5 linked regions of the Homo sapiens genome follow. The protein of the gene in region 2 interacts with the protein of the main gene of each other region in a pairwise test. Each region holds a gene or a part of one and is shown on either strand. Other genes may lie near its edges. The genes, in order: NCAPH2, ODAD4, CEP70, MEOX2 and GOLGA2.

Region 1 (3,519 bases), on a different chromosome or scaffold from region 2:
GAGTGTAAGGACCTCGGGGGTGTTCAGGACCTGAAGAGCTGGTCCAGAAAGAAGGGAACATGGAGGAGATGGCGGCCTGGAAGCTGAGCTGCAGAAGTGGCCCTTCTCTCCAGTGACCCTCAGCCTGGCTGGCTTGCCCACTCCCAAGACACTACTGGGCTTCACTTGTCTTCTCACCTCCCCAGGTTGGACCTGCCATCTGAGCCCAAACCCACATGTTCAGCTGCCTTCTTCAAACATCGCTTGGATGGCTTCACCAAGATTCATACTGAATGCATCCACACTGAACTCCAAATAGCCCCCAACCCACCTGCCCAGAAACCCAGGGGTTCCTCTCCACAGTCACCCCCATTCTGGCCCCACCACCTCCCCTTTCACCTCTGCACTGACAGGGCTCCTCCTGCCCTTCACTCCCCTCCCGTCCACTCTCCACGCTCTGCTCAGTGCCTCTGTTTAGGATTTTGGGTTTTTCCTAACAGTGGCAGGAAAAACCCAAAATCCTAAACGGAGCCAGAGGGAGGCCTCCATGCTGGCCAGCCTCCCTCTCCAGCTGCCTGCCCTCCTCTGCTCTATGGTCCCAACTTGGAACCTTCTGTTTTGTTTTGTTTTGTTTTGTTTGAGACGGAGTCTCACTCTGTCACCCAAGCTGGAATGCAGGGGCGCAATCTCAGCTCACTGCAACCTCCGCCTCCTGGGTTCAAGTAATTCTCCCTGCCTAAGCTTCCTGAGTAGCTGGGATTATAGGCGCCCGGCTAATTTTTGTAAAAACTCCAATCCTTCCAACACCAGGTTTCCTCCACCTGGAGCTAAACATTCTTTAGCTCACCATAAATAAGTAACTGCTTTCATCTCAAACAAACTAAGCCCCCCAAACTCTCCACAGGACCATACATTTTCTTTCAAATCCCTTATAAGTTTCTGGTGATTTTTTCGGTTGGTTGGTTGGTTTTGGTTTTTGTTTTTGAGACAGTCTCTCGCTCTGTTGTCCAGGCTGGAGTGCAGTGGCACAATCTCGGCTCACTGCAACCCCTGCCTCCCAGGTTCAAGTGATTTTCCTGCCTCAGCCTCCCAAGTAACTGGGACTACAGGCATGCACCACCATACCTGGCTAATTTTTTTTGTACTTTTAGCAGAGACAGGTTTTCACCATGCTGGTCAGACTCATCTCGAACTCCTGACCTCAAATGATCCTCCTGCCTCGGCCTCCCAAAGTGCTAGCATTACAGGCGTAAGCCACCTCGGCCTCCCTAAGTGCTGGGATCACAGGCGTGAGCCACCTCGGCCTCCCTAAGTGCTGGGATCACAGGCGTGAGCCACCTCGGCCCCCCAAAGTGCTGGGATCACAGGCGTGAGCCACCTCGGCTCCCCAAAGTGCTGGGATCACAGGCGTGAGCCACCTTGGCCCCCCAAACTGCTGGGATCACAGGCGTGAGCCACCTTGGCCCCCCAAAGTGCTGGGATCACAGGCGTTAGCCACCTCGCCTGGCCATCAGTTTCTGACTACACAAAGTCACACGCAGGGGTGGAGGCTGGATTCTGATCTGCCAGGAACCACTATCATTCAGAGTACATCTCTAACGCCTCTACTAACAAGGTTTTTGTGAGGACTCTGCATTCATATGTGTAAAGCACATAAAACAGGTGCTTAACACAAGTAAACACCAAATGCATATTTATTACACCCCCATGCGGTTACTCTCTTGGACCCGTCTTCCCATGACAGAGGAAGTCCTACCATAGTGGGGATTATCATTTGCTTTGCTTGGCACTATTTTTTCAAAGTTTAACATGGTTCTTGGCACACAATTCACAACTAACAACAATGAATAAATAAATGGATAAAAGAGAGTAGGATCATGACAGTACTAGAAGAACATTCTGGCCAGTGCAATGGCTCACACCTATAATCCCAGCACTCTGGGAGGCCAAGGCAGGTGGATCACTTGAGCTTGGGAGTTTGAGAACAGCCTGGGCAACACAGTGACACCCCATCTCTACCAAAAATACAAAAAATTAGCCAGGTGCGGTGGCACATGCCTGCAGTCCCAGCTACTTGGGAGATGGGAGGATCACTTGAGCCTGGGAGATCGAGGCTGCAGTGAGCCATGATTGCACCACTGCACTCTAGCCTGGGCAACAGGGCAAGAACCTATCTAAAAAAAAAAAACAAAAAAAAAAAAACAAAGGACAAAAAAAAGAAAAAGAACATCATGGTAGTGTGTGGAAAATGACAGAAGGAAAAAGATAATACTAGAAACCAGGAAATCAGGACTTCAAGCTGCAGAGGTTTGGAAGAGCAGACATAAGAAAGCAGGAAGGGAGCTGACCAAGCCAGGAAGGAGATTTACCAAGTGAACAGGTGTCCTCATGGACCCTGCTTGATGTGAAAACCTGAATCCACAGGAGCTCTGCCCAGCACAGTTCCCCGTATTTTCTCAGCCAACTATGCATGAGAGCAGAGAAGTTTGGTCATCAGATCACATGTGCATTTAACAAACACTTTAACGTCCACACCTATGTGCCAGGCACTCTACTAAGCAGACAAAAGAGGGCATAAGTATGGTCCCTGCCCTGGCAGAATTCACATTCTAGGGTGGAGACAGGCCACAAACAGGTAAATGAGTTGAAGAATGGCTTGTGGCCAGTCGCAGTGGCTCACACCTGCAATCCCAGCACTTTCAAAGGATGAGGTGGGCGGATCACGAGGTCAAGAGTTCAAGACCAGCCTGGCCAACATGGTGAAACCCCATCTCTACTAAAAATACAAAAATTAGCTGGGGCCAGGCACGGTGGCTCACACCTGTAATCCCAGCATTTTGGGAGGCCGAGGCGGGTGGATCACGAGGTCAGGAGACCAAGACCATCCTGGCTAACATGGTGAAACCCTGTCTCTACTGAAAAATACAAAAAAATTAGCCAGGCGTGGTGGCGGGCGCCTGTAATCCCAGCTACTGAGGAGGCTGAAGTAGGAGAATGGCGCGAACCCAGGAGATGGAGCTTGCAGTGAGCCGAGATTGTGCCACTGCACTCCAACTTGGGCCACAGGGCAAGACTCTGTCTCAAGAAAAAAAAAAAAATTAGCCAGGCGTGGTGGCAGGCGCCTGTAATCCCGGCTACTCAAGAGGCTGAGGCAGGATCGGACGCGGTGGCTCAGGCCTGTAATCCCAGCACTTTGGGAGGCCGAGGCGGGTGGATCATGAGGTCAGGAGATCGAGACCATCCTGGCTAACACGGTGAAACCCCGTCTCTACTAAAAAAATACAAAAAATTAGCCGGGCGTGGTGGCGGGTGCCAGTAGTCCCAGCTACTCGGGAGGCTGAGGCAGGAGAATGGTGTGAACCCAGGAGGTGGAGCTTGCAGTGAGCCGAGATTGCACCACTGCACTCCAGCCTGGGCGACAGAGTGAGACTCCGTCTCAAAAAAAAAAAAAAAAAAAAAAGAGGCTGAGGCAGGAGAACTGCTTGAACCCAGAAGGTGGAGGCTGCAGCAAGCTGAGATTGCACCACTGCACTCCAGCCT
Region 2 (3,519 bases):
GTTATCTCTGCCTGGAATATTCTAAACCTTCCCTTCCCACCTCCTTCACCTGGCTAACTCCCACTCAACCTTTAGGTTTCAGCTTAGATGTCCCCTCTTTGAGGCGGCCTTCTCTGACCCCTCAGTCTGGGTGAGGAGCCCTCACATCAGGTTTCACAGCCTTGATATGTCCCCCATCAAAGTCCACGTTGTGCACTTGTAATTGCCTAGACTTCCATTGCTTAAGGAGGCAGCTGCTAGCCACGTGAGGCTAAAGTTAATTAAAACTAGGCTGGGTGTGGTGGCTCATGCCTGTAATCCCAGCACTTTAGGAGGCCGAGATGGATGGATCACCTGAGGTCAGGAGTTTGAGACCAGCCTGGCCAACATGGTGAAACCCCATCTCTATTAAAAATACAAACAATTAGCCGGGTATGGTGGCACACACCTGTAGTCCCAGCTACTTGGGAGGCTGAGGCAGGAGAATCGCTTGAACCCGGGAGGTGGAGGTTGCATGAGCCAAGATCATGCCATTGCACTCCAGCCTAGGCAACAGAGCGAAACTCCATCTCAAAAAAAAAAAAAAAAAAGTAAATAAAATGTAAAATTCTCAGTCACACTAGCCACATTTCAAGTCATTATAGCCACATGTGAGGCCGGGTGCGGTGGCTCACACCTGTAATCCGAACACTTTGGGAGGCCGAGGCGGGTGGATCACGAGGTCAGGAGATTGAGACCATCCTGGCCAACATTGTCTCTACTAAAAATACAAAAAATTAGCCAGGTGTGATGGCACACTCCTGTAGTCCCAGCTACTCGGGAGGCTGAAGCAGGAGAATTGCTTGAACCTGAGAGATGGAGGTTGCAGTGAGCCAAGATCACGCCACTGCACTCCAGCCTGGGCGACAGAGCGAGACTCCGTCTCAAAAAAAAAAAAAAAGCTACATGTGGCCTATGGGTGCTACATAATACAGATCTAGAATATTCCCATTGTCACAGAAATTTCTGTTGAATAGTGCTGGCCTAGACTGTGTCAGGAGGCAGAGACCAGGGGAGAAACTTGGAGGTGCTCTGGGCTCCCCCACCCCACCCACTCCCAGTGCATCCAGGTGGACGCACAAGCTTAGTAAAGTCTGCACACCAACTTCACAGGTGCACACTCACCCAGGCCTCTTCCTCCTGCTTCTGACCAGACAGCTTCCTTAAGCCCTTCCCACAGCCAAATTCCAGAGCACCACTGGCACGCAGCTGGACCCCAGGAAGTATCTGCTGGAGTGAAGTAAACGGGGCCCCTGTCCTTGGGGAGCTTATGCCATCATTGAAAGAAGCCAGATTGCATAACTTGTGGGCAGCAAAGGGGCATGGCCTCAGGGACCAGCCTGGGGTCTGCAGGCACTGGGCAAAGAGAGCAGGGACCCTGAGAAGTGAAGGCTCAGGACACTCCCAGTGGGAGGAAGACCTCATGCTGTGCTCTGAAGGACAAGGATAGCAGAGCTGGCCAGGCCGAGGAGGGGCAAGTGCACTGAAGACGTGGGAGGTCGGCGCTGAGGGCTGGTGGCCGGCAGAAGAGAGATCCTGGCCTGGGTCCCAGAGCTGGGGGGTTCCCGGTGGCGGGGGATGGTGGTGACAGAGCCCCAGACAGTCAGCACACCAGCCTGGACTTGAAGGGCTGTGGACAGCAGAGAAGTGATCTGATCACCTCTGTTTTTTGGGAGGCAGGTTCATGGTGAGCTGTTTGTGAGGACTGTGGTAAGGCTAACACTGCCCTCTCATGGCGGAGAAATCATACCCAAAAGACCCCAGCAGGCGCAGTCTATCCTCTGCCACCATACGGCCCAGGGAAGCCCAGGCCTAGCATGTTGTCGTCCTCGTCATAAATGCCATGTCCCCAGCTCTGGCTTCCAGGCGAAGAGCACCCACCTCACTGCAGCCCTGCCAGATGTACCATGCGCCACATACTTCCATGTGATCGCCCTGCAGACAGACAGCATGGCCGTTCAGTTCAGGAAATATTCGCCGAGTGTAGATTGGCTCCAGGCTGCCAAGCTCAAATGTGTGCGGCCATTGTCCTAGCCCACAAGAAGATTACAACGAAAGGCCAGACACAGTGGCTCACACCTGTCATCCCAGCACTTTGGGAGGCTGAGGGCAGGAGGATCACTTGGGTCCAAGAGTTCTAGACCAGCCTGGGCATCATAGCAAGACCCTGTCTCTTAAAAAGAAAAAACAAACAAACAAAAAAACAGTTACTCAGGAGGCTGAGGCAGGAGAATGGCGTGAACCCAGGAGGCGGAGCTTGCAGTGAGCTGAGATCGTGCCACTGCACTCCAGCATGCATGATAGAGCGAGACTCTGTCTCAAAAAAAAAAACAAACAAACAAACAAAAAACAAAGCACAAACCCTGGTTCATGACCAGTGCCATAGGGGACTAGGGGAATTCAGAGTGAGAGAGCCCCAGCTGGGAGGCAGAGCTGGAGGCTTTCCAACAAGGAGGATCTGAGGTCACCTTGAAGGCTAGGCAGTAGTTTGAAGGGTTAGGGGCAGAGAGAAGGTACCTGTGACCCTCACTGACTCCTCATGGGACCAGGCCCCCGACCCCTCACCCTCCTGGATTGGCAACTCCAGGTAGGAAGGCTCACAGTGGGAGGGAGGTGGGGGGTGGGCAGACCAACACCACAAGAGAGTGCATCCAGGCCCCGGAGCTGCTCAGTAGACACTACCATGTGTAGCTGGTGTTCTGTCAGTGCCAGCCACGGGCCTGCTATGAGCAAGAAGGCAAGACCTGCCCTCCAGAGGCTCACAGGGGCTCCAGGCCCCTGTGGATCATGCACTCGAGTTGGGGAAACTGCAGACATTCTGGAAGGCCCTTCTGAAGGCAGGCCAGCCCCCAGCCTGTCCCCTTGGTGTGTTTCTGGGTCTTTTCAGTGCTGCCTTGCTGAGTGCTTGCAGGTTTGGATTGTCTTTTTGCATTGACTGAAGCCAAAAGCAGCTTTAGGTAGTTCATCTAAAGGTAGAAATGAGTAGATAGACACAACTCCCAATACATGCCTAAGCCAAAGAGAAATGCATTTGACTGACTCGCAGTCATGTATCTCCCAGACACAATTTGTGTGGATCATTCTGAGTCAGTAAGTGTAGATTAACCTGAGGGTAGGGGTCATTGGAGGGGCCAGAGGGAAACCAAGGGTGGCAGGTTCCCACCAGAGCCCTGCCTTCTGGGATTGATCTGGGTGGGGAAAATTAATGGTGTAGGTGCCAAACACAGGGGCTAAGCTCCCTCTACCATCCACAGGCCTTGGACGATGCCAACAAGGGTATCATCAGAGAACTGAGGAAAACCAACTACGTGGAGAATCTCAAAGAAAAAAGCGAGGGAGGTGAGTTCCTGAAACTCTGAAAAGGCAACTTCAGCATTCTCCCTCTGCTTTCTTTTCCTCTAGTCCGAGACACATGCGACAGCAGCTCCCCAATCTGGGGGCTTGGCACTGCCCATCGTGCATTCTAATTTCAGTGCCACCAGCAGCCCTAGCCTATCTCTG
Region 3 (3,519 bases), on a different chromosome or scaffold from region 2:
ACCACCATGGCAAAGCCCTTCTTGGGGGCTACAATCAGAGTGTTCTCTTTCTCCTCCAGACTCTAGAGCACAAGTTATCTGCATCATTCACTCAGAACTTCAACCGGTAATCTATTTTTATGTCACTCATTTCCTTTAACGATATAAATGATTACATTTTGTTTCATATTTTTTAGTATATTTTGTCTAATTAGTCTGAATCTTGTGTTCATCCCATAATGGCTTAGCATGATAAACGATCAATAACTATCCATTAGTGTGATTCTTCCCTTTGTCTTCTTCCTCTTCTAGTCTTTTCTTCTAGGAAGGCTAGGGCTTTTTCTAGTCCATCCCTTCTGAGATGAAGAAAGGTGGAGTCAGCACTGTTTCCTCCTACTGGGAGAACCCTCTGACAGGCAGTGATTGAGGAAATACCATGATTTACACTATTACTAATTATTTTACACTCTTCTGAGATACAGACTGGAGGAACTCCGGTCTATAAAGTAAGTATATTAATCTAGCACTGTCACTCAATCAAAATGTTTATGTATTGTATAGCTCTGTCTGAGCCCTATATAAAAAGGGAAGTCGAAATTTAAAAAAAATTAACATCACCACCCCCAATTTTGTTGTCTTGGAATATAATATTCTGCTTCATTCCTTTTAACAAATATTAATTGAGCACTCATTCATCAGGAGGATCTTGGGGACATATCAGAACAAATAAAAACACTGTCTTCATGGAGCTTATACATTCTTAACAGATATCTTCTGCATCATTTGTACTTCATGTAATAAGACTTATGTTGCAAACACTGTTATTGAATCACATTTTCATTAACAGGCATATGCTATGTATTATATTAGTTACTAATAAATCTAAAGTGTAAAGGGCAAAGAAGTTAAATACTACTGATTTCAACTATTTACCTTTCAGCAAACTAGTTAACAAAAACTGAAAAAACCTGAAGCTATGCAATAAATACACAATAACTCTATAAATAAAATGTGGTCTTCCATGAAGAGATAGGATAGGGAAGGGTAGCGTTGGCTGCTAGCTTACTATCTGTTCTAGAGAATAAGCAGAAATGGAGATAAGCTCAGTTCTGAGAGACAGAAAATAAAGTGTGAAGAGAGAGAAAATATCCCCAATTATAATAAAATGAAGGATAAGACATTATATCTGAAGAGGGATAAGGGCCAGGAAAATCGCAGCATGGAGATATGAAAAGGAGGCAGATGAAGGTAGAACAGGGAAGGGCCTAGAAGTACAAAGTGGATCCACTATAGATTTTCAATAAGGAAACTAACCCCAAAATTTCTTGTTTGGTAGAATCTTAGAGGAGGTAAAGCTTACAGTAATGACAACATCAAATAGACAGTACCTAAAATAGATATGTAAGTAGGAAGATTTCGGTTTTAGATAATAAGCTTTTTTAGCTTTAGAGTTAACACACAAACAAAAAAATTAAACCCTATTTAATTTTTAGCCCTGAATTAAGTCCTATTAATAAAGCACATAGAGTCCAATAGATGTTCAAAGCATATAATCATAGTCAACCCCTTACCTTTAAGGATGTCAGTTGATCTGCCCACATTTCTATTACAGGAACAAGATGCTCAAATCCACAATCTTGAACAAGATCTTTATTAAAATTTTGGACTCCCCCTTTGGTCTGTTTATAAATTATTACTGGAGCTCTTGGATTGTGGATAATTGAATTGATGCTACACAGCACCTTTAAAAAAACATAGTGTATATAGTCAAAATATTTATCCTATGCCTACAAAGTTATATATTTTAAAGGAGTGCTTTATGTCTATATATATTATATACACATATTTCATTAAATATACAAAGAAAATTATCATAAGGAATTGGCTCATGCAATTATGAAGACTGACAAGTCCCAAGATCTGCAGTGAGTAAGCGAAGACCCAGAAAAGGTAATGGGTATTTGCAGTCCAAATGCAGGCAGACTGAGACCCCTGCAAGTGCTAATGTTTCAGTTTGAGTCTGAAGGCAAGAAAAAAACCAGTGTCCCATCTTGAAAGCAGTCAGGGAGGAGGAGCTCCCTCTTATTCAGCCTTTTGTTCTACTCAGGGCTTTGAATCATTGGATGAGGCCCACCCCATTAGGAAAGGCAGTCTGATTTACTAAAGTCTACTGATTCGGATGTCAATCTCATCCAGAAGCACCTTCCCAGACACATCCAGAATAATGTTTAACCAAATATCGGGCATCCTATGCCGCAGTAAAGTTGAAACAAAATTAACTATTACAAACACTACCTAGGTTCAAAAATTGTTAGTATTTTGCCATATTTGCTCACTATCTATATTTTTAGGTGAACCATTTGAAGAAACTCTTCACCCTCAAATAATAAAGCATGCATCTTTTAAAAGTAGGCATATTCTCCTACAAACTCACAAGAACATTATCAGACTATTTAAGGAAATTAACAGCAATCCCCAGGCTGAGTGTGGTGGCTCATGCCTGTAATCCCAGCACTTTGGGAGGTTGAGGCAGGAGGATCACTTGAGCCCAGGAATTCAAGGCTGCAGTGAGCTATGATAATGCACTTCAGCCTGGGCAACAGAGCAAGACCCTGTCTCCAAAAATAATATCATTGATGCCTGGATTGAATTTTAGGTATCTTAATATATTAAGATAGTATACTATTTGACTATAACCCTCTCCCCATAAGTGATGGGTTCTACCTTACATATCATCCGAGGAAAAAAAGGGAGACCTCAAAAAGCATGTTTAAAGAGAGAAGAATAAAGCCATTTCCTATTACCACCATCAAGTTCAGCCTATTTAATAAAAAGTTTCACAATATAAAGATAGCATTTTGCTCTTGAATCTTTGTCCCTGGTCATACTTCAAGATATAACTAATAGGCCTCCTGGTAATATGACTTAAGATGTTTATTACTTCAGATGTTTATTTAGAAGCTTTTTAAGTCCAAATTAGTATAATTCAATATTTCACTTCAAATTGATGTATGTATATTTGTTTTATATATTTATTTGACAGAGTCTCACTCTGCAGCCTAAGATGGAGTGCAGTGGTGTGAACGGAGCTCACTGCAGCGTTGAATTCCTGGGCTCAAGTGATCTTCCCATGTCAACCTCTCAAGTGCTAGGACTACAGGCACAAGCCACCATGCCCAGCTAATTAAATTTTTTTTTTTCTAGAGATGTGGTCTCACTATATTGCCCAGGCTGGTCTCAAACTCCTGCCCTCTAGCAATCCTCCTGCCTCGGTCACCCAAAGTGTTAAGATTACAGGCATGAGCCACCATACCCGGCTTGAATTCCCCTTTTAAAGGACAAAGCCTCTCAAATTGAGTCTCAGAAACAAAATGAAATCCAGTTATATACTGGTACAAGAAAGTCTAAAACAAAACAGTTTTCAGAAAGGTGCTTGGTTCCCATTTACAATAGCAATAAAAGTTATAAAATACCTAGGAAATAACAAGGTATTTCCTAACAAGAAATATGCAAGAGCTAAATTTAAAAATACACAACACT
Region 4 (3,519 bases), on a different chromosome or scaffold from region 2:
CTGTTAATTTGGTAATAAATAATGTCAAGAGATTTTAAATGAAAATACTTATTCTGAAACATAAAAACAACATCTGAGATGAGCACAAATGGATCAATAGATACATTATTGATTATTTTGTATCATAAAATACTATCTAGTACAACATTCTTTAAAAAATTCAATATTTTTATAATGTAAGTAAAACGGGAAGAACTGTTAGAGAAATGGGCATCAGATTTAGATTAATTCTGCCTCTAACGCAAATTGTAGGCTGAGCCCTATATGTTCTTGACCATTCTAAGTTTTACTACATTAAAACACATAAAATATTCTGCGAGGTTTTCTCCAATGGGATTTTGAATCTCACTGATGACTGTGATTTAGGAGTAATGTAGAGAGTTTTGCAACTAACTTTACTTTACACCGTTACTCCTTTTCTACTTGGGGGTTCAGTTCAACACGCTAGTAAAAGAAATAGTCATGAGAGCATCCTAAGGAAAGTAGGCAAAATGTTAGTGCCTCATTATATTTACAATCTTTACAAAACATGTATGTCAGTAAACCATATTAACATCTAAAGCACATGATATGTAGAAACAAATTGTGACTACAAAATGTGTCTTGTTTCTTAAATATGCTAAATAGGAAATAAATCACATCTACTTCAATTTTTAATCTGTGGACTTTGGCCTTAGTTTGTGTTTTATTTTATTTTTTTGCTTTTGATTTTAACCACTGAAATCATTTACCAATACTATAAGCCAGGAAATACAATGTAACTGGCCAGTTGAGAATTAAGCCTTCTCTTTTTATTATTACAATCAAGGGGGGAAATGCTTATATATCTTCCTGCACAAAATGTTTCATTTATCAAAAAAAAAAGTGAGAAAAATAAAGAAAATTTGGGTGAGATAAATAATCCACAACTATTAATTCAACAGATATTATTTAAGAAATTCCTACCTGTAATTTATTTTCTAATATTTCTGCATCCTTAGTATTTATCGCTCAAAGATATTTGCAGCCCTCATAGCAGTGCTTGGAAAAGAGATTTGCTCTGAAAATTTAGAAATAAATTCCTGAGGTGAATACAGTTCAAAACTAAAATATATTGCTGTATTATATTGGTTTTTCTCATTTGAAATTAAAATCTAAAAAACCTTCATATTAGGTTGTGTGTGTCAAGCTGCCATTATAAAAACACTAAATGAATAAAATTTCGCAAGCAAGGCAGCATTATCAGGCTAAGTACATGTAGTGGGCTTATATATGGTGATGTTTTACATAATTCAGCTATTAATTCATCTATAGATTTACATTTCTTAAGTGCAAAAAAAAATGTAATTATTTCATTACATATGGAATTCACCTCCCAAATTTCTCAGAATCTAAGAGAAAGGATTGACATTTTCTGATATTTCATTTTTGCTTAAAATTAAGTTCTTAGGATGTTTAGATTTTATTATAAATATTACAACTTAAATTCCAGAGTTATAATGAACGGTCTATGTTTTGAAACACAGAGGGAGAATGGGGTAATGACTGAAGTACTGTTTTTTCAGTTTATTAGTAAAGATCAGCTTATAAGATGTCATTGTAAAGGTTTCTATTGATAATTACCATAAACAAAGATTAAAACTTTAAATACTAAGTTCTGGATTTCTAAGCCCGGTGAAAGTTTGTGCAATACCATGCCTTGCATTTATGATTTTTCTTTTAAAATGAACTATAAATGAAGAAATTTACACAGAATTGGAAACTATTCCTACTTTTATTTGCATTCTTCCTTCCATTCATTGCTAATGTTCAACAATAAAGCATTTTAATTCTAAAGGAATTGTTGCTTTTAACTTGAGTGTGATTATTTTAGATCACATTTTAGAGCCCTCATGTAGGTCAATGATACTTAGAATTTTTTATGTCAGATTACCATTTTTAAATGTTCACACCTAAAATTAGTCTACCAGTCCAAGATAAAGAATGGAAGTTTTTTTTTGTACTCCATTTGATTTGTTCAATACTTCACTTTAATCTTCAAGATCCAGTATATTATTTTTTAAATTCTAAAGCAAATGCTGAAAAGCCACAATCCAGTAACACAGAAATGAATAATAACACTAATTTATTCCTTTCAGAAAACACAATGATTGAAATATCTTGGAAATATTACAATATCATACTGAATGAGGTTGATAAGGTATTACTCTGAGTTTAAGTTCCAACTTATTAAATGTAATATTTGCTAGTCATTCTGCATAGTCAAGCATATAGACAGACATAATTTGACAGCAAAGGTTTTATGACATAGTAGCTATAAATAAAATATTTGTAATTTTACAAGAATCTAATATGATTCAAAACCTAGTAAAGTCTACCTCCCCAAATCGCTCTTTTCTTTTTTGATGTAATTTCTATTTTTTATAAAATATGTATCATAAATTTGAATAGAAAATATCTAGATATGTACACTGTATAACCATGCACAAAAGCTAAAGTTCGATCAATGAATTAATTTTAGTTATTTTAACTAAAACTGGGCAGTTTATTCCTACTACTAGATTGCTCAAAGAGCAACCAAATGTAATTGAAGCCAAGCAATTCACACTATTTATAGACATTTTTCAGAATCACCTGCTTTGTAGTGATTTTTTTCAGCAGTTGTAAAGTTTTGATTTTTAAGAGTCCCTTTGAAGACGTGGCAGATGTTGGCTTTGCTAATAATGCTGGAAAGCGTAGCAGGTTCAAAGTTACAAAAATGTTTAACACATATAAAATATAATGGTGTGTTTTTCTATTAAATTTGGTTATTTTCAATTGTCAATAAACTTACATAAAGGAAGCCTAAAGTCCATAAATATTTGCTTCCAAAACATGAAGCTGCTAGAGTTTGCATATGTGTGTGTCCATGTGCATTTGTGGAGGGAAAGTGCATAAAATATATGCTAGAGAAGCTTACGTATTATAGTTTTAAATCGTTACTATGAATAAAATTGTAAGGTTTATAAATATTTAAGCTGTTTTTCAATACTTTCTGGTGCTTAAAATTCTATTAGAATTTAACACGGTAATTAGAATTAGCACATACACATACAGTCTAAGTATTAGATGCAGGGATACAGAATTTTGGTCCTGACTTTACCCTGGATTTATGTACTGAATTTTCTCTCAACCATAAATGCAAAGTAATTATAAACTACCTAACAAAATACAAATGATCTCACTATATAGGATGACATTTTTATCTAATACAATTTTAAATTTCAGGAGTTCCGAAATCACTTCAATTTTATATTTTAGAAATATTGAAATACTAAAATGTGCTATAAGCAATGAGAGATATACGTATTAATAGCATACCAGGATCATAATCATTTTCAATATTGTTTTAGTTTGTGCTAGATCAAGATGTCTATGAAATAAAATATCTTTGAAGATAATTTATGGAACACCTAATGCAATTGTTACACGAGAAAGATATCTTTAATTTAAATCTATCTCAATATCTGACAAATATACCTTCAGCTGAAATTGGCAAAT
Region 5 (3,519 bases), on a different chromosome or scaffold from region 2:
TAGTACCTGAGGACAATCCTAGGATTCAGAACTTGGGGTCATGTGGAGCCTCTCCCTTGCCCCCAACTGGACCTACCTGCTTGATCAGAGCCCCACCCAGCCTCTCTCCAGGCTCTGACCTTACTCTTCGCCCAAGCCTCTGGTTCTAGAGATCTTCTAATATCTGACAAGCCAGATGGGCAGACAGTGGAAAAAGCTGGCTGACCAGCTAAGCTGGACAAGAGAAAAACACCAGGGAGCCAGGGCCTGGCCACGGAAGCTGGGTCTGGGAGAAGTGACTACACCTCTCTCCAGGGAAAGGACTGCGCGCTCACTGGACCCTTCAGCCCTGGCTTCTGAAAACCCAAATCTGCTTCCCTCCTTAGAGCAAGTGCTGCAGAGGCTGGTGGAACTGAAGATGAGCCAAGCTGCCTTTGCATCTTTGCAAGTTTACTGTGACCATGGAACCTGGTGTTTCCTTGACAATGCCTACAACTGAATCTAATAGGTCAGAGCAAGGGTTCAGTTGCTGGCCAGGCATTAGCCTTGAGGGAAGGCTGGCACTCCTAGCAATGGACCCTGCTAGGCTTTAGGGCCCTCCTGGCATCTTCGGTTCCCACTGATCTCTAGGATTAGACACAAGAATGCTCAGAGGAAGGGAATTTTTTTTTTTTTTTTTTTTTGAGATGGGAGTCTCACTCTGTCGCCCAGGCTGGAGTGTAGTGGCGAGATCTCCACTCACTGCAACCTCCGCCTCCTGAGTTCGAGATTCTCCTGCTTCAGCCTCCCAAGCAGCTGGGATTATAGGTGCACGCTACCACGCCCAGCTAATTTTTGTATTTTTAGTAGAGATGGGGTTTCACCATGTTGGCCAGGCTGCTCTCGAACTCCTGACCTCAGGTGATCCACCCTCCTCAGTCTCCCAAAGTGCTGGGATTACAGGCATGAGCTACTGCACTTGGCTGAAAAAGCATTTTTCTGAGGACTTTCTGACACACATAGCATGATTATTTTGTGAGCAACCAAGTTATTTCATTATTTTAAGTCTTGTAGCCAAGATGGAGTTTTTAAAAAAGCCTACTCTCCTCAAAATGTCCCATCCCATTAAGATATTTTTTCTCTCTCCATTATTCCCTACTTCTGGAAATGTTATCAGCTCCGCTCAGGATACTACGATCACAGGCCTGCATTCCTGGAGTAGAAAACTTACATGGTAATAAAAATGAGAAATTAAAAAAAAACAAAACCTACATTGGAAACAGTTACGGATATAGAGAAGGTATAAAAACAGCAAGGGGCTGGGCATGGTGGCTCACACATGTAATCTCAGCACTTTGGGAGGCCAAGGCAGGTGAATCACTTGAGGCCAGGAGTTCGAAACCAGCCTGAGCAACATGGCAAGACCCCATCTCTATTAAAAATACAAAAAAAATGGCCGGGCGTGATGGTGCAACATCTGTAATCCCAGCTACTTGGGAGGCTGAGGCATGAAAATCACTTGAACCCGGGAGGGGGAGGTTGCAGTGAGCCAAGATCACACCACTGCACTCCAGGAGAAAGAGCAAGACTCTTTCTCAAAAACAAAAACAAAACAGCAAGAAGGAAATACGGGGATCTAGGCCTTTGTTTCCAGAATAGAGGGACCTGGGCTGGCACAGAATCTCAGAGCATTAGGAAACAGGCTGAAGACCCCCTAATCCACTGGACCATTGGCAGAGCAAAAGCCAAATGCTTTTGGCTGCAGGTCACCTCTAAGCCTGTGCTCCCCAGCCGTACCACTCAGCGTCTCCTCTGAGCTGGCAAGGTGAGTCACAGCACCTGGACAGACCTGATCAACTGGAGGGTAACAGGTATGAGACTGGACAACTCTCTAACAGCAGCCAAGGCTGCTCTGTCTCAGTCCCTCTCCCCATACCCATCTCCAACAGGATCAGGCTCTATTCGTGCCCTGCTCCTCTGGCTTGGCAGGAAGGAGTCCCCCAGGTGAGTTAGAGATGGAAGAAATGCCAAATCACAGCCAGAGGAGGTTGTCTCCCAGCCCTGTGTACCTCCATGCCCTGCCCCCCACCAGGCTCCCTGTGTTCCTGAAAGGTGCTCTGTGAGTTCACACTCTGGCCACGGCCTCACCGCTCCCCCTGCCTCCCCCACTCCCCATATGGATTAATGTTACCCACCTTTAATCTTCAAGCCAGCTTCAAATGCCACCTTCTCCAGCCTGGAGTCCATTTGGAACCAACCTCCCCCCGAGCTGAGCATTTGGAATGTTCCAAAATTCTCTCTTGCCTCCTTCAGAGGAGTCTGCCTCCCTCGGTGTGCAGCCTACCTTGTTCATCTATTTTATCCACTGTTTATTTATCAAAGTGCCTTTGTTGTCAAGAGCCCAATGAATATGGCTAAATGTCCATTTGGAGAGATTAGGGGCAGAACGTCTTGGTCACTCATCTGTTTGGTTAACCTCACAACTTTTACAGTTAGTTCCTCTGAAAAAATAGCTTCAATCCTTCCAACTATAATGTGAACTCATTTTCTTTTAACCCTTTGTTCCCTACTCTTAAACCAAAGTGAATTAATTTAAAAAAAAAAAAAAAACACTAACTTCTAGGTGGTTTACTGATCTTTGCCTTTAGGGTAAAACCTAAAGGTCTGTTGGTTTTTTTGTGTTTTTTTTTTTTCATCTCTCCTAGTCTGAGAGTACCCACACTGGGCATTCAAAAGCCCAAATCCCAGAATCCCAGACTGGGAGCAGTGGCTCACGCCTGTAATCCCAGCACTTTGGGAGGCCAAGGTGGGTGGACCACTTGAGGTCAGGAGTTCAAGACCAGCCTGGCCAACATGGTGAAACCCCATCTCTACTAAAAATACAAAAATGAGCCAGACATGGTGGCAGGCACCTGTAATCCCAGCTACTCAGGAGGCTGAGGCAGGAGAAACACTTGAACCCAGGAGGCAGAGGTTGCAGTGAGCCAAGATTGTGCCACTGCACTCCAGCCTGGGCAGTGAGACTCCGTCTCTGAAAAAAAAAGAAGAAAAAAAAAAGCCCCAAATCCCACACACCTGCTCTAAAAGTTATTCCCAAATTACCTTTAAACTTTTAAACTTTAAGATATGTCTCACCTTCTCCAAGATGATAAAAGATTTGGGGGAAGAATAAAAACCCAATCAATCAAGCAGGTGAAGAAGCGGACATAAACAGGCGGAAGGTTAATGGCAGCAACATAAAATAAGCCAGAGGCAAAGTATCCCCCAAACCAGAGAAGCCTCAGGGGCATGCACAGCTGGAGAGAGCAAGCCAGAGAGGGGTCTCGGCACTGCCTCACCTTCCACTTGTCCAATGGGGGGAGCGCTACCCCATTGGAACGGTTAAGGTCGGACACCAGCACCTTCAGAATGTCCTGAATCTACAGGAGGCGAAAAGGGAAAAACAAGGGCAGGGGGAGAAAGGTAGAAGTGGCTTAGAGAGAGGCAAGAAAGTCAGGGAAGGAGGAAGATGTGGGTTCAGGGAAATGAAATAAGAAGAGTGGAGGAGATCAATACCATGGC

The links.
Region 1: the proteins of ODAD4 (region 2) and NCAPH2 interact in a two-hybrid assay, tested with the Homo sapiens proteins (one large-scale study listed by BioGRID and IntAct).
Region 3: the proteins of ODAD4 (region 2) and CEP70 interact in binary tests that used the Homo sapiens proteins (3 or more experiments, as listed by UniProt).
Region 4: the proteins of ODAD4 (region 2) and MEOX2 interact in binary tests that used the Homo sapiens proteins (3 or more experiments, as listed by UniProt).
Region 5: the proteins of ODAD4 (region 2) and GOLGA2 interact in binary tests that used the Homo sapiens proteins (3 or more experiments, as listed by UniProt).

What each region holds. Positions count from the first base shown.
Region 1 is NC_000022.11:50,511,206-50,514,724, reverse strand, and holds part of NCAPH2 (condensin-2 complex subunit H2), read right to left. Parts: intron 1-3,519. UniProt on the Homo sapiens protein: Regulatory subunit of the condensin-2 complex, a complex that seems to provide chromosomes with an additional level of organization and rigidity and in establishing mitotic chromosome architecture.
Region 2 is NC_000017.11:41,958,110-41,961,628, forward strand, and holds part of ODAD4 (outer dynein arm-docking complex subunit 4), read left to right. Parts: intron 1-3,272; coding exon 3,273-3,357; intron 3,358-3,519. UniProt on the Homo sapiens protein: Component of the outer dynein arm-docking complex (ODA-DC) that mediates outer dynein arms (ODA) binding onto the doublet microtubule. Plays an essential role for the assembly of ODA-DC and for the docking of ODA in ciliary axoneme.
Region 3 is NC_000003.12:138,503,745-138,507,263, forward strand, and holds part of CEP70 (centrosomal protein of 70 kDa), read right to left. Parts: intron 1,722-3,519; coding exon 1,551-1,721; intron 134-1,550; coding exon of another isoform or gene 92-133; exon of another isoform or gene 1-91.
Region 4 is NC_000007.14:15,680,166-15,683,684, forward strand, and holds part of MEOX2 (homeobox protein MOX-2), read right to left. Parts: intron 1,816-3,519; exon of another isoform or gene 1-1,815. UniProt on the Homo sapiens protein: Mesodermal transcription factor that plays a key role in somitogenesis and somitogenesis and limb muscle differentiation. Required during limb development for normal appendicular muscle formation and for the normal regulation of myogenic genes.
Region 5 is NC_000009.12:128,269,489-128,273,007, forward strand, and holds part of GOLGA2 (golgin subfamily A member 2), read right to left. Parts: intron 3,378-3,519; coding exon 3,297-3,377; intron 1-3,296. UniProt on the Homo sapiens protein: Peripheral membrane component of the cis-Golgi stack that acts as a membrane skeleton that maintains the structure of the Golgi apparatus, and as a vesicle thether that facilitates vesicle fusion to the Golgi membrane.